Linked DNA regions of Homo sapiens: region 2 is linked to region 1. Evidence: fine-mapped expression QTL. Tissue or cell type: fibroblasts. Region 1 holds a variant in brackets; the other region holds the start of a gene. All regions are shown on one strand. Distances are from middle to middle.

Evidence for each region. PIP is the estimated chance that this variant, and not a neighbour inherited with it, causes the effect.
Region 2: it holds the start of SEPTIN6, and the variant in region 1 is fine-mapped to the expression of SEPTIN6 in fibroblasts (GTEx, PIP above 0.99).

The regions. Positions count from the first base shown.
Region 1 is chrX:119,724,180-119,732,282 of GRCh38, forward strand. No RefSeq gene overlaps it. Among named protein-coding and RNA genes, the nearest start is that of SOWAHD, 30 kb to the right of the region's middle. The variant C/A (reference allele first, on the strand shown) is at 4,390.
Region 2 is chrX:119,689,686-119,697,788 of GRCh38, forward strand. SEPTIN6 (septin 6) reads right to left here and starts at 3,483. Exons shown (of 11, transcript NM_145799.4): 1 at 3,391-3,483. The coding sequence starts at 3,420. RefSeq lists enhancers at 2,497-2,546, 3,367-3,496, 7,045-7,104 and silencers at 3,037-3,166, 3,677-3,726.

The DNA.
Region 1 (8,103 bases):
AAATAAAAATAAAAAATAAAAAATTAGGATATTAGTTGTATTAGGCCATTCTTGTGTTGCTATAAAGAAATACCTGGAACTGGGTAATTTATATAAAAAAAAAGAGGTCTTATTGGCTCACAATTCTGCAGGCTGTACAGGAAGTGTGGCACTGGCATCTGCTAGGCTTTGGGAAAGCTTTAGGGAGCATTTTAACTCGTGGAAAAAGGCAAAGTGGGAGCAGGTGTCTCACATGGCGGGAGCAGGAGTGAGGAAATAGAAAGGGCAGGGGAAGGTGCCACACTTTACAACAACCAGATCTTGTGAGAACTCACTATCACGAGGACAGCACCAAGCCATGAAGGGATCCACCCCATAACCCAAATACCCCACCAGGCCCCACCTCCAACATTGGGGATTAAAATTCAACATAAGATTTGGGTGGGGACAAATTTCCAAATTATTTCATTAATTAAATAAATCAGGGTAGGGCGTGGTGGCTCACGCCTGTAATCCCAGCACTTTGGGAGGCCGAGGCAGGCGGATCATGAGGTCTGGAGTTCAAGACCATCCTGGCCAACATGGTGAAACCCTGTCTCTACTAAAAATACAAAAAATGAGCCAGACGTGGTGGCATGCACCTGTAGTCCCAGCTGCTCGGGAGGCTAAGGCAGGAGAATCCCTTGAACCTTGGAGGCGGAGGTTGTTGCAGTGAGCCGAGATCACACCACTGCACTCCAGCCTGGTGACAGCGCGAGACTGCATCTCAATAAATAAATAAATAAATAAATAAATCGTGGTGCATTCATACAATAGAATACTGTGTGGCCTTTAAAAATGATAATGTAAATTGTATTTATTGATGTGATTAGATGTTCATGATAGAATCTTTAGTAAAAATAGGCAGTTACTAAAAAGTATGATGGGGCCAGGCGCAGTGTCTCACGCCAGTAATCCCAGCATTTTCAGAGGCCAAGGCGGGCAGATCACCTGAGGTCAAGAGTTCGAAACCAGAGCTGGCCAACATGGTGAAACCCTGTCTCTAATAAAAATACAAAAATTAGCCAGGTGTGATGGTGGGTGCCTGTAATCCCAGTTACTCAGGAGGCTGAGGCAGGAGACTCGCTTGAACCCAGGAGGGGGAGGTTGCAGTGAGCCAAGATCGCACCACTACACTCCAGCCTGGCAACAGAGCAAGACTCCATCTCAAAAAAAAAAAAAAAAATTTTTTTAAAGTATGATAGTAAGATACTAGGTCTTCTATTTTAATAGTATGTAATATTGATATATAAATGCATAAAAAAACTGCAAGGATAAATACAAAGCTATTTACTATGAGTTGTTTTGGAGGTCCTTAATATTTTACTCTACATGATTCTATATCATCTTAAAATTTTGCGAGGCCATGGTGATACACACCTGTAATCCCAGCTGCTTGGGAAGCTATGGTGGGAGGATTGCTTGAGCCCAGGAGTTCGAAACCAGTCTGGGCAACAATAGCAAGACCCACCCCCCTCTTAATTAAAATATTTTTTAAAGTATTTTATGAAGATGTACTCATAAGCTGGGCGCAGCGGCTCACGCCTGGAATCCCAGCAGTTTGGGAGGCTGAGGCAGGCAGATCACCTGAGGTCAGAAGTTCGAGACCAGCCTGACCAACATGGAGAAACCCTGTCTCTACTAAAAATACAAAAAATTAGCCCGGTGTGGTGGAGCATGCCTGTAATCCTAGCTACTCAGGAGGCTGAGGCAGGAGAATCCCTTGAACCCAGGAGGCGGGGGTTGTGGTGAGCCGAGATCGCGCCATTGCACTCCAGCCTGGGCAACAAGAGCAAAACTCCGTCTCAAAAAAAAAAAAAAAGAAAGAAAGAAAGAAAATGTACTCAGGTATCATTGCATAATTGAAGAAGTTTTAAATCAAAAAAAGGAAAAGATAGAATACCAATAGTAAATATGTGTATATGACCATACGTATATGTGCTGTAGGTAAATATACATATAAGAAGGATCAGCCAGGCACGGTGGCTCACACCTGTAATCCCAGCACTTTGGGAGGCCAAGGCAGGTGGATCATCTGAGGTCAGGAGTTCGAGACCAGCCTGGCCAACATGGTGAAACCCCATCTCTACTAAAAATACAAAAAATAGCCAGGTGTGGTGACACATGCCTGTAATCCCAGCTACTAGGGGGTGCTGAGGCAGGAGAATTGCTTGAACCCGGGAGGCGGAGGTTGCAGTGAGCTGAGATTGCGCCACTGCACTCCAGCCTGGGCAACAGAGCGAGACTTGTCTCAAAAAAAAAAAAAAAAAGCATCTGGCCAGGAGCAGTGGCTCACCCCTGTAATCCCAGCACTTTGAGAGGCCGAGTCAGGCGGATCACTTGAGGCCAGGAGTTGAAGACCAGCCTGGCCAACATGGTGAGACTTCGTGTCTACTAAAAATACAAAAGAAACTAGCCAAGCATGGTGGTACGTGCCTGTAGTCCCAGCTACTCTGGAGGCTGAGGCAGGAGAATCACTTGAACCCGGGAAGCAGAGGTTGCAGTTACCTGAGATCACACCACAGCATGCCAGCCTGGGTGACAGCAAGATCCTGTCTCAAAACAAAACAAAACAAAACAAAAACAAACAAAAAAAAACAACTAATATGAAGCTCTTAACAGTAGTTGTTCTGGATTGGAGGATTATGGATGATCTTTATGCTCCCTTTTTGCCTGTCTATATTTTCTATAATTAGCATATATTACTTTTGTAATAAGAGAATGTAATCAAGTATATTTCATTTTGAGAAAACATTACAGTGAGAAATAAAGGCCAGGAGAGAAGGACTACTCATGCTGGCTAGCCAGCCCATTATCTCTCAGTAAAGCACACCTACGTGGGAGGCCACATTTTAATCAAGAAGTTGCTTAGTGACCACAGAACCAGAGCAAAGTGCCTAGCTGGATGGCTCTAATGTCGAAAGACAGCAAGCAATGATAGCCTGATGTATCATCTCCACTGCAGTGCTAACCTGCCTGCCCTGAATGCAGACTTTAAAACACCCCAACACACCTAAAGCACCAAGAACCTGCCCTAAGATTGTTTGATCGCATTGCCCTGGATCTTCCTTGCTTGTGTATGACTTACATTCGCCTGACTGTGTCTCTGGCTGACAATAAACTCTCAGCTTCATAGCCTAGCTTTGCATCCGTTTGTGGTCTGGTGTCTGACTCTTTGTTTTAGCATTTGCCCTTGGTCTCCTTGAGGCTTAATTTGCAGCTTCTCTCTAATGAATTTCAGTTTGGACTTGCTCCTTGACTCATCCTGCTAAGCTCCTCTAGTTGCAGGAGCCCGGGTAGGGGCCCTGCCTCTCCTTGTTCCACTGCTGGGCAGGGGTAGGACGTGGGGATTCAGACTTACACCTGACAAGGCTAACTTCAGACACATTTTTTCTTTAGCTTATAACTTTCAGTTAACTTACGATCAATTCTTTTTTTTTTTTTTTTAAGACGGAGTCTCGCTCTGTCACCCAGGCTGCAGTGCAGTGGCGCAATCTCGGCTCACTGCAAGCTCCGCCTCCCGGGTTCACGCCATTCCCAGTAGCTGGGACTACAGGCGCCCACCACCGCGCCCAGCTAATTTTTTTTTTTTTTTTTGTATTTTTAGTAGAGACGGGGTTTCACCGTGGTCTCGATCTCCTGACCTCGTGATCTGCCCGCCTCAGCCTCCCAAAGTGCTGGGATTACAAGCATGAGCCACCGCGCCTGGCCTTTTTTTTTTTTTGAAACAGAGTCTTGCTCTGTTGCCCAGGCTGGAGTGCAGTGGCGCGATCTTGGCTCACTGCAACCTCCGCCTCCCGGGTTCAAGCAATTCTCCTGCCTCAGTCTCCCAACTAAGCTGGGACTACAGGTGCACGCCACAACACCCAGCTAATTTTTGTATTTTTAGTAGAGACGAGGTTTCACCACATTGGCCAGGCTGATCGCGAACTCCTGACCTCGTGATCCGCCCACCTCAGCCTCCCAAAGTGCTGGGATTACAGGCGTGAGCCACCGTGCCTGGCCTTACAATCAATTTCTTATTCTTGGCCCGGCACAGTGGCCCACATCTGTAATCCCAGCACTTTGGGAAGCCGAGGAGAGCAGATCACCTGAGGTCAGGAGTTCGAGACCAGCCTGGCCAACATGGCAAAAATCCATCTCTACTAAAAATACAAAAATTAGCTGGGCGTGGTGGCACTCGCCTGTAATCCCAGCTACTTGGGAGGCTGAGACACGAGAATCGCTTAAACCCAGGAGGCGGAGATTGCAGTGAGCCACGAAGAAAGTGCAGTTATGATGGGGAAGAGGGAGAAACCAGTGGCTGAAGAGGGGCATAATGGGGTTGAGGTGGGGGAGTGTTGGTTTTGTTTTTCAATAGTCTGGAGCAGG[C/A]TTTGAGGCAAGCTAGTTTCAAAGCAGCCTAGGGTGGTGGAAAGGGCTTGAGTTTTTCCTCATCTTGACCATGACAAGCTTTCCTCAGCTTGATCTCATCTCCGCCAGGTGGCAGGGCAGCGAGAGCCCTGGCTCAGGAGCCAGACTGCCTCCGCTCTTAGCCCAGCTCCACACTCCACAGCGTGACTTTAGCCCAGTTATTTGTGCCTCAGTCTTCTTTCAAATGGGCATAATAAGGGTACATACTCCATAGGATTGTCGACCTAAAAAGAAGCAGCTTGGGCAAAATTAATGTAAGTAGAGAGTTTATGTGGGCCAAGCTTGAAGATTGCAACCTGAGAGCAGAAAGTCAAGTTTCCCTGAATGTACACTTCAATTACTAGCAGTTACAGGTGGAGTTTTGAAGGCAAAAGTAGGGGACAAGGAGTGGACTGATGCAAAGTTGTTTGTCAGGAATTCTCATTGATTTACAGAAATAACATTGTTAAGCTACAGACTGTGGGTTGTAGTGTCTGGTGTGGCATTATTGGGTTAATTTATAGCTATTTATGGCAATAGCAAGCAATTTCAAGAGATGAATACACAGTTCAAAGTGGGGAGTAGGGCCTGATTTCAGTCTCATTTTAATGTCTCTCCCGGCCTGACCTGCATTCCTCAGATAAAAATTCTTTTCTCGGGATCATTGTAAGAAGGGAGATAGCTCCCAGCCTGGGCAACATGGCGAAACGCCGTCTCTACAAAAAATACTAAAAAATGAGCCAGGCATAGTGGCAAGTGTCTGTGGTCCCAGCTACTCGGGAGGCTGAGGTGGGTGGATTACTTGAGTCCAAGAGGCAGAGGTTGCAGTGATCTGAGATCGCACCCCTGCACGCCAGCCTGGGAGACAGAGTGAGACCCTGTCTCAAAAAAAAAAAAAAATTGCTCATGCAAAGATGCAAAGTACTTAGAACTGTGGTTGCCTGGCATGGCACATAGTAAGTACCTGCTAGGTGTGAACCGCTATTGTTGTTGCTAGCTATGTGGCCTTGGGCATGTCACTTAACCTCTCACTTTGTCATTCAACCTCTCATTTAACTTCTCATCATTCATCACTTGATTAAGGATTCAAAGTGCCTTTGCCCGTACTAGGTATTCAGCAACACTCAGTTCCCTTGGTTCTTTATATGGTAATAATAGTATTTTACATATGAACACTTACTACACTCCAGGCAGCTCATCTATTACCTTCATCATCCTAGTTAATTATCAAGACAACCATATGAGGAAGTGACATTCGGAAGCAGGTATCCCTAGTTTACAGATGAGGAAACCAGGGTCAAATAGATTGCGATTGGCCCAAGGGCGTATACGAAATGGCTGAGCTGAGATTTTACAATCCTATTTCTTTTTCAAATACTGACACTGGAGTGGGTGATGACCAGTTGTTACTAAATCCAGTGGCTAATCCTTTATTGCTACATGGTTTAAACCGATTGTTGCTGCTAGCTGATGATGAAAGGCTTTGTAGCCTTCCTCCGAGTGGGAACACTTTGCTGCCCCCTTGTGACTCACCAAGTTTCTGCCTCCAGGTTCCCCGTTATTTGAAAAAATAAACAAATAAATAAAAGGCCCGGTGCTGCGACACACGCCTGTAATCCCAGTACTTTGGGAGGCCGAGGCAGGCGGATCATGAGATCAGGAGTTCGAGACCAGCCTGGCCAACACAGTGAAACCCTGTCTCTAATAAAAATACAAAAATTAGCTGGGCGTGGTGGCACGCACCTGTAGTCCCAGCTACTTGAGAGGCTGAGGCAGGAGAATTGCTTGAACCCGGGAGGTGGAGGGTGCAGTGAGCTGAGATTGCACCACTGCACTCCAGCCTAGCAACACAGCGAGACTCTGTCTCAAAAAAAACTTTTTTTTAAAATTAACTATCTTTTCTGGTACAGTAATTTCCCTCCAGAAAAGGTGTTGAGGTGTTGCCTGGGAGAGGCAAGGGAAACATGATTGGAGTTGAATTTTGTTTTGTTTTGTTTTGTTTTAATATAGAGGAGAAAATATAGGTGTCTCTCTTTTTTATTCTTTCTTTCTTTTTTTTTTTTTTTTTTTTTTTTGAGATGGAGTTTTGCTCTTGTTGCCCAGGCTGGAGTGCAATGGTGCGATCTTGGCTCACTGCAACCTCCACCTCCTGGGTTCAAGCGATTCTCCTGCCTCAGCCTCCTGAGTAGCTGGGATTACAGGCATGCGCCACCATGCCCAGCTAATTTTGTACTTTTAGTAGAGACGGGGTTTTTCCATGTTCGTCAGGCTGGTCTCAAACTCCCGACCTCAGGTGATCCGCCCACCTCAGCCTCCCAAAGTGCTGGGATTACAGACATGAGCCACCGTGCCCGGCCTAAATATAGGTGTCTCTTACAGCAACTAGGGGCTTCACAAAGGTGGCGACAGTGGGCTCTGGTCTTGAGGGATGACTAAAAGTTTTCCAGGCAGGCTAGGAAGGGGAAGGACATTCTGAGCAGAGGGAACAGCATGGGCAAAAGCACGGAGATGTGATGGAGCATCTCGGGATTTTAAGCGAGGAGAGCAACATGCTTAGATTCATTCATTCTCTGATTCAACACATATGTGTCACATACTGTGCTGGGTGGTGACAATGACGGTAGTGAAAAACACCAAGTCCCTAAAATTATGGAGCTTACTTTCTAGGGAGGTAGATTTGAAGCAAATGCAAGTACGAGATGCCTCTGGATAAAAACAAAGCAGGGGATGGGAACAGAGAGGGACCAGAGGGTGTTATTTTCAACAGGGTGGTCAGGGAGGCCTTCCCTGAGCAGGTGACATTGGAGCAGGACTGAATGAAGTGGGGGAGCCTGCTTCATGAGTGAACTGGGAAAGATCACACGAGGCAGAGGGAACTACAGGTGCAAAGGCCCTGAGGTGGGAGAGTGTTCGGTGTGATCAAGGAGCCAGAGGCGGGGTGGTGGAGGACTGGAGCATCCTCAGTGCAGGTCGGGGTGGGGATGAAGTTGGTAGGAGAGGGAGGAGGTGAGATTGCAGAAGACTCAGTCATGTTTTCATGGAGGACCTTGTGAGCCATGGCAAGGAGTGGGGATCTCATTCTAAGAAGGGCAGGAAGTGTTTGCTGAGACTGTGTTGAGATGTGAGAGGAAAGAGAGGCATTTAGATGGCTGGCAGATTTTCACCCAAGCAACTAGGAAGACTTCACTATGGATGGGCTAAGTTTGAGAAGCTTATTAGAGCTCCAAGGGGAGCTGTCAGCAGGCTGCTGGACAGCAGCTGGATCTGTGTGTCTGGAATTCAGAGGAAGGATCGGAGCAGCAGGCGTCTGTGCAGAGGGGTCATTGAAAGACCTGGATGAGATGAGATTCTCAAGGGAGCGAGTACATAGAGACAAGTGGACGAGGTCCGAGCCCCATGGCTCCCCAATCTCCAGACTCTAGAGGATGGAGCCAGCAGGACCAGCAGAAGGAAGGCACTGAGGAATGACTGACTGGCTAGGGAGCTCAAAGGAAAACCAGGAGAGCTGGGTGTCCCAGAAGCCAAGGGAAGCAGGAGTTGCAAGGAGGATGGGGTGATCGACAATGTCCAATGCTGCTGAGAGGGTCCAGTAAGGTGAGGACTCAGACCCAACTGCTGGATTTGACAGCATAAAGGGAGGGCATGGATGACCTTGGTACACTCTAGCTTCATGGGCATGTGATCTGTGTAGTGGGA
Region 2 (8,103 bases), 34 kb before region 1:
CAGGCTGGTCTCGATCTCCTGACTTTGTGATCCACCCACCTCGGCCTCTTTTTTTTCTTTTTTGAGATGGAGTCTCGCTCTGTTGCCCAGGCTGGAGTGCAGTGGTGCAATCTTGGCTCACTGCAACCTCTGCCTCCAGGGTTCAAGCGATTCTTCTGCCTCAGCCTCCTGAGTAGCTGTGATTACAGGCACGCACCACCACGCCTGGCTAATTTTTGTATTTTTAGTAGATACGGGGTTTCACCATGTTGGCCAGGCTGGTCTCGAACTCCTGACCTCATGATCTGCCCACCTCAGCCTCCCAAAGTGCTGGGATTACAGGCATGAGCCACCAAGCCCAGTCCGATCACGAACGTTTTTTAAAGCCTGCTACCTTTTTTTGTCCAGTTGACAAGGGCTAACCATAGTGCTGGCCACATATCAGTCAATCAAGTAAATATGGACACAGTGGAGAAATGGTGTTGTCACACCAAACCGTTTGTGGTGTTCATTCAAATGGGACGGACTTGTATTATGTGCACCAGAATTGAACTTCCAAGTTGGCTGCGTGCAATGTAAGCCCTACCCAACAACTTGAAGGCTTGTTTTAGTCACTAAGGATGTTTACCCACAGTGACTCTCAACTGATTCTAGAAAGAACACACCCCCCACATACATACACATACACACACACACACACACACACACACACACACACACACACTAGGGCACTTACTCGCATGGTACCACGTCTCAGAGCTCATTAAAAAGAATTCCTGGCCGGGAGCAGTGGCTCATGCCTGTAATCCCAACACTTTGGGAGGCTGAGGCGGGTGGATCACAAGGTCAGGAGTTCGAGACCAGCCTGGCCAACATGGTGAAAACCCCCCTCTACTAAAAATATCAAAACTAGCCAGGTGTGGTGGCGGGTGCCTGTAATCCCAGCTACTCGGGAGGCTGAGGCAGGAGAATCGCTTGAACCTGGGAGGCTGAGGTTGCAGTGAGCCGAGATCATGCCACTTGCACTCCAGCCTGGGCAACAGAGCAAGACTCCGTCTCAAAAAAAAAAAAAAAAAAAAAAAAGAATTCCTAAGCTAGCCACACTTAGGTTTATTCTCTAGTCTTCTGTTCCCAAACCCTGAATACATGTTCCTTGGAGGAAACAAGCAGCAACCAGATGTCCAAGGTCTCCTGAGTTAACTCCGTCTTCCCTGGTGAATTACAACTTATTGCAGACACAAAGGAGAACAGAGAGACAAATGACACATAAACAGGAGCTTCACTGGCTGGGGGAGGGGGGCATGGAGAGTGACGTCAGTTTTCCCAGAAACCCATTTATCACGATAACAAGGTCTCGAGTGCTTAGGCTGCTCTTTCAGCTTCAGAATCTGGCGTACAATTATGTTCTTCATCATACAGTATGGCAAGGCCAGCCAGAGCAAACTGGAGCCATGCAAAGCAAACCAAGTGGCCCTAAAGCACCCCCTCACCCCCATCTGCAGAACAAAGGGCATCTCTAGGTTGCCTGAGTTGTGCCTGAGGTGAAACACACACAACCTTCTGGAATGTTCCCCATTGCAACATCTGCCCTGCAATCCTAATCCAGGCAAGAGAAACTGGTGAGAGTATGGAGGACAGGTCGATGCAAATTCATTAGCTGACATGAAAAATCATTAGCGTCATTTTTGGATGGAGCTAGTGTAATCCCAGAGATTAATTCCTCTACTTCAGCTATACCATCTCTGAAATGCAGGTAACCAGGAGCAGAAAAGCCACAGCAGAAAAGAGGGAGCCCTCAAAACACTAAAGCAATAAACAACGAGAGTGCCAATCTTGGGGGAAGAAAATTCTCTCAAATTGCATCATCACAGAGAATGTCCCCTGTCTACTCCTGGTCCTTCCACAACATGACTGCATAAAGTGCTCTGTGCTAGGGTGTGCAGGGGGTGGAGGAGGTTCCGAAGAAATGATCCTGCCCTTCCAAACAGGGACAAAAGAGACATTAATACATATTCTGTAGAGAAAATATTATCAGATTCTGGCTTCAGATTTTGTAAAATCAATTTCAATTACACCAAATACCTAGAGGCTTTTTTTTTGTACTGTAGTTGCATTGCATGAACTATTTTCCTAAATAAGTAAGCTACAAGGTTGAAAAACATTTTTATGTGGTTCAGAGATTTTCGTCAAGTAGTATGTGGTGTCATGGGATTTGACCTACCTCTGTCTCCCACTCCTTCCTCACCTCGGGGTGCTGGTGGGCTTATTAAAGTCCCAGATACCCATGGATGAATAGAATAGCTAGGGTGTCCCCCCCAAATGGAATTCATCGCCCTTTGCAACCAAACTTCTGGTTTAAAAAACAAACATGGAGCCTCAGGTCACTTCAACATGGTTTCTCTGCACATCCCAGGCTGGAAAACTTCAGTTCTTTAAATGAAGATTTTTTTTTTCCCAGAGTCGGTCGCCAACAAAAAAAGAGACGGCACCGCTTTTGCGAGTCTCACACTTATTTTCCTGAGTCTCCATAGAAAGAAGCCAGCTCCACAGGTTTTGGCACACAAGCCCAGTTACACTGAACATGCACCCGAGACAGATCCTCAGAGGCCCGCTCCAAAACATGCCAAAATACGCAGCCAGCCACCTACAGGCCAGCCAACTGCACCCCACACTGACGCACAAATGAGACCCAGAGGCACACAGCACAAGCAGACAGAGAGGCGTTCGGACACACACCACAGAGGTGAGCACACTCAGAGAAACACGCGGACTTCTTTGGGTCACAGACAGAACCCCGGCGCCGCCGCCGCCCGCCCGGGAAGACACGAGCGCGCGCGCGTGCACACATACGCGCACACCGATACACACACAGACGCAGTCACATATGTAATGCATATAGAGAAACCCTATCCCAGCCAGTCACCTCCCCGCCCCCCTCGCCACTCACCGCCTTCTGCCCCAGGCTAACCCCAGCCCCGCGCCTCTTTGCCTGTGCGGTCCCGGGTCACAACGGGCAGCCGTGCGCAGGGGCGCGGCAAGGCCAGGGTGCCAGGGACCCGGAGGGCTCGGCGGCTCCTACGGCCATTCATTCGGCAACGCCCCAGCCGTGGGGCCGCAGCTGCAGCGAGGGAGGCGGTGGCGCTCACTGCGGCTCTTGGGCAATGCAAGTTCAGCCGCCGGCCCGCAGGTTTTGCCTGCCCCCCTGCCGCCCCCCGCCCCCCGCGCGCCACCACCGTTTTCCGGGACAGGCTGAGGGACTGAGCTGCTGACCCCGGGAGCAGAAGTCCCACCGTGCCCTTGGCTCCTGGATGCTGCCCACTGCCCTCCTCGCGATGTGGCGGCGGCGGCCAGGTCTCCTTGACCCTCACCAGGCCCTCGGCCCCGGCCCTGGCACCCAAGCTCTGCACTTACCACCTGGCGAGCTATATCGGTCGCTGCCATCGCTCCTGCGTCCGCCAGGGCTGCCACGGGTGCCGCCGCAACGGGAGCTACTGCACAGGAAACAGAGGAGCTCCTCCGACAAAGAGAAAGTGTTACACTTCGGGCGCGACCAAGTCCGGTGGGGGGAGGTGCAAGGGAGGGGCCCCCTCGCCGCTGCTCCAACCCCAACCTCCCCTCTACCGCCCACCCCTTGAAAGTAGGGTATGGAGAGGGGGCGGATTTAACGCGCCGCTTCCCCCTATGGCCAGACCAGTTCCAGTTCTTCCTGCAACCCCAGCCATAGGCTTCTACGAAGGGGGGCGGGGGCTCCCCTCGGTGACCACGTCCTCTGCCCCCCCCGCCACTTGGCTCCGTGGTACGTCCCGACCTCTGCTGAATTGTCACACCCCCCTGCTCTCCTTTACATCCCTAAGTCCCCAGACCCCGAAGGCTGGAAGGGAGCCCCCGCCCCTCCCCCCTCCCATACTCTGCTCAGCGGCCGAGCTCTGCAGTTCTCCTCCCGGCCCCCGTTACCCCCCTTCCTTTCCACCGAGATCCCAAGGTGCTTAGATGGGTGCGCCTTGGCCGCTGGAGTCTCGATGCCCCACTGTCGTGTCTCCCTCCCTCCATGGCCCGGGAGCGCAGCTGCGGCCGAGGTACCGGGGAGGCCTGCGGCACCTGCCGCTCCACAGTAGAGCTTAGAAAGGGGGCCCGTGGGGGGAGCCGCACTGCAGCCCGGCAACTGAGCTGAGCTGTGGCATGTGGGGTCCGAGGCTAGAGGTCTTGAGACGCTGCTTCTGCCCTGGGGTTTCCAAGCCTTGGGTGCTGTGGGCTGTAATTTCGTGGAGCCAAGCTCACCACCTTTGGGTACCTAGTACAGACGGAACCCACGCCTCCTCTCTCCGACCCAGCCCTAGACGCTCAGCAAGACCACCCACCCCTTCTAGTACCAGAGGAAGGGCTGGAGATGAAGGTTCTCAGCTCTATGGAGCGAAATGGAGGGGCGGGTGACGGGGAGCGGCCTCCAGTCACTCTGTCCCGCCCCCTGATTTCTCCTTGACCCTCATTCAGCCCGGGACAAGGCGGCCAATAGGGCGCAGAGGAGAGAACTTCCGAAGGCAGGGGTGCGCCCGCCCGCCCTCCTTATCCCCGTGGCCCACCTCCGCGGGTCCTCTCTCGTGGGCACCTCTCCACTTCTCCGGCCTTGGCGCCCTCCCCTCTCTCTTGGGACTGGCCTCTTGCTAGCTCCCTGTCACTGGAGCACGCTGGCAGATTTGGCATGCCCGAGGCCCCAGCGGGAGGGACAGTACATTCCACTCCTCAAAAGGGCAGGTTCCCTGGTGTGGGAGAGAGACCTGGGCCCGCCAGAGGGACCCCAGATGGGGGAGGGGATGACAAGGCTATGGAGGAAACCCGGGCCCAAGAGGGGGCCCCAATGGAGCATGGAAGATGACCCCGTAAAGGCCCAAGGCTGGAGCAGCTGAGGAGGAGGCAGGAGAGAGGGAAAAAGAAAAGAAGGAACCAGGGAGAGAGAGGAAGAAGGGACTCGATCCAGAGGCCCTGGTCTCGGAGAAGTCAGGGAAGACAAGAAAATGGAGTAGCCAAAGAAGAGCATGCCTGGCACTTGGTTCCACCTGCTGGATGGAGCTTCTCACACTCTCTCGGGAAGCCCTTTATGTATGTACCCTGTGCGCCTGGAGAACAAGGACTCAGCAAACGCATCCCAGGGCCGAGTGCAGGGCCTCGCAGTCAGGAGGCACTCTATTAAGCTGAGGGCAGAGAACTTGGATGCGTGCGAGGGGGGCGGGGAGAAGAAAGAAGAGACACAGTGAGGGAATAGCAGTAAGGACAGTCATGAAGAGCCAAGTATTCAGGGAGCGCCACTGTGCGCCTTCATTGTGCTGGAGACCCAGGAGCGGCCTAAAGAGAAGAGCCTGGCAAAATCAGGGATCAGCGCAGAGGAGCTCCGCGAGACAGAAGGCGCAGGCCATAGGGCGGATGGCGGTGGCAAGGAAGAGGGGCAGCTGGAGTCTTTCAGACTCTCTGGAGCTTTGGGGCAGGGCCTGAGCCCTGGACTGGGTTGGCAGTGACACGGGGGACCAGTGCTATATCTGAGGAACCACGGTGAGGCTTGGGCCCCAACCGCATGGGGGCGGGGAGTCAGAGGTGACTGGCGGCTTCCAGGCTGGGTGTCTGGGACAGGGCTCTTCCCTGGCAAAGGCTAGGGCGTGGTGGACTGAAAGGCCCCGAGGTCACTAGCCCCGATCTGGACTTGGGGTTTGGGTGGTGGTGGGACAAAAGGGGAGAATTTGGAAGCCAGAGCAGAAAGCTGCTGCCGGAACGGGAGGGGACTGGAGGGCTGCGGGTCTCCCGGGAGAATCCCCCACGCACTGCCCCGCCCGCCTTAGCACTCCTCGCGGACTGAAGCTCCGTACTTACCGGCCCAGCGCTGGGGGCACCTGAGCACGGAATCCTTGGTGTCTCATCCATATGCCCCATTCGGCCCTCCTGTCCCTAGAGACTACCAGAACCTCACTGCGTCCTCCTCCTCCAAAACGCTGAACCTCGAAGACCTGAACTAAGTGCTTAATTCAAGTCTCCTGGGACCCTTTGGTTCCTCCAATACCTGCCCACCTGCGGCTACAAGTCCCTCCTGGGGCCTGGGCCTCCAGCCTCCTTCGGTGGGGTGTGGGTCAGTGTGTGTGTTGGTCTTGATGTGTGAGTAGATGTGTCGGTGTGTTCGTGTGTATTGTCAGTGTGTGCTAGCTGTGTGTCTGTATATCTGTGTGTCAATGTGTGTGTTGGCATGTGTTGGTGTGTCAGTGTATTTCAATGCATGGTGAGTGTATGTGTGTCAATATGGAGAGAGGTGTTAGCTCACTAGCTTTACATACCTTATCTCACTCAGTGCAGTGGGCCGACGACTGAGACGTGTGAATCAGAACATTCATTTCAATAAAGAGGTTTGGAAACTCTCTGGGATCATGCCTTTCTTTTTTTTTCCTTTTTTATTTTTTTTTTGAGACGGAGTGCTCTGTCATCCAGGCTGCAGTGCAGTGGCGTGATCTCTACTCACTGCAACCTCTGCCTCTTGGGTTCAAGCAATTCTCTGCTGCAGCTGGGACTATAAGCGCCCACCACCACGCCCAGCTATTTTTTTTTTTTTTTTTTTTTTGTATTTGCAGTAGAGACAGGGTTTCACCATCTTGGCTAGGCTGGTCTTGAACTCCTGACCTCGTGATCCACCTGCCTCGGCCTTGCAAAGTGCTGGGATTATAGGTGTGAGCCACCGCACCCGGCCTGAAATCATGCCTTTCAGTCTTTGTCCCGGGTCACCTTCCCAAGAACAGGGGAGATGGAAGGGCTGAGGAGGCAAGAGGGCTCATGAGTGGTCAGTTCGTGAGTTTTCTTCCTTGAATGTCTGTCCTCGTTGATGAGTGAAGCCAAAAGATTCCCCTTTATGAAGAGTCATTTGGGACTCCCGGGCGCTTCCATGAACATGTATGTGCTCATGTTTGATGTTTCCTTGTGGGGTCCCTTGGGCCCAGCATGGTGTCTGGCAGGTGTTCAATCAATGTTTGTTGAGTAAAGGAATGAACAGAAGCATGTAAATGAGGTGGCTTCAGTATTTCCATGTCCTTAAAGAAGCTGCAACAAACAGAGACTTCCCAGGGGCAAGCAGGTGGCTGTCATTAGCATGCCAATGTTTGTGGAGCCAGACTCTACTGCCTGGGAGCAGAAATGGCTACCCCTGCTAGATAAGAGTGGGCCCTAATTGGAGCCCAGCTTTCCACAGGTCACTGCTGGAGTTGGGGGTGCTAATACTGGATAGAGGAGCAGCAAGCAACTCAGGGGCAGGGAGGGAGAAGAGGGCACTGAAATGGAGCTAAGAGGTCAGGAAAGGGCTTTGTCCTGAAACTGTGGCTTTGTGATAGGAGAACGAGAAAGATGGTAGAGTCAGTCTCAAGTGGAGAAGCCCTGAGAACCATCTGAAAAATAAGATCAGAAAGTTGGAGGAGGGGCCGGGCGTGGCGGCTCATGCCTGTAATCCCAACATTTTGGGAGGCTGAGGCAGGTGGATCACTTGAGGTCAGGAGTTCGAGACCAGCCTAGCCAACATGGTGAAACCCCCGTCTCTACTAAAAATACAAAAATTAGCCGGGTGTGGTGGCGCATGCCTGTAGTCCCACCTACTTGAGGCAGGAGAATTGCTTGAACCTGGGAGGTGAAGGTTGCAGTGAGCCGAGATTGTGCCACTGTACTCCAGCCTGGGTGACAGTGCGAGACTCCATCAAAAAAAAGAAAGGGAGGGGGAGAGAGAGAGAGAAAAGAAAAGAAAAGAAAAGAAAGAGAAGAAAGTTGGAGGAGGAAGACAAGGTGAAGCAGGGAAAATGATCCGGGATTCACCAAATCCAGACAGTGCCAATTAAATCAGAAACTCTGTGAAGGGGCTGAGTCAAAATGAACTAAAGATCCCTTTCCTCAATTCTGCATTATCACCTGCTGCCCCTGGTTTTGCTTTAGTTTCTTTCCAGTGTTTCTTAAAATGTGGCCTTTGAAGCATCAGCAGCATATGGGAAGTTATAAAAAATGCAAATTATTGGGCCCCACCCGAGACCTACTGAATCAGAACTTCTAGGATGGGACCCAGGAATCTGTATTTTAACAAGTGCTCCAGTGGATTCTGATTTATGCTGAAGTTTG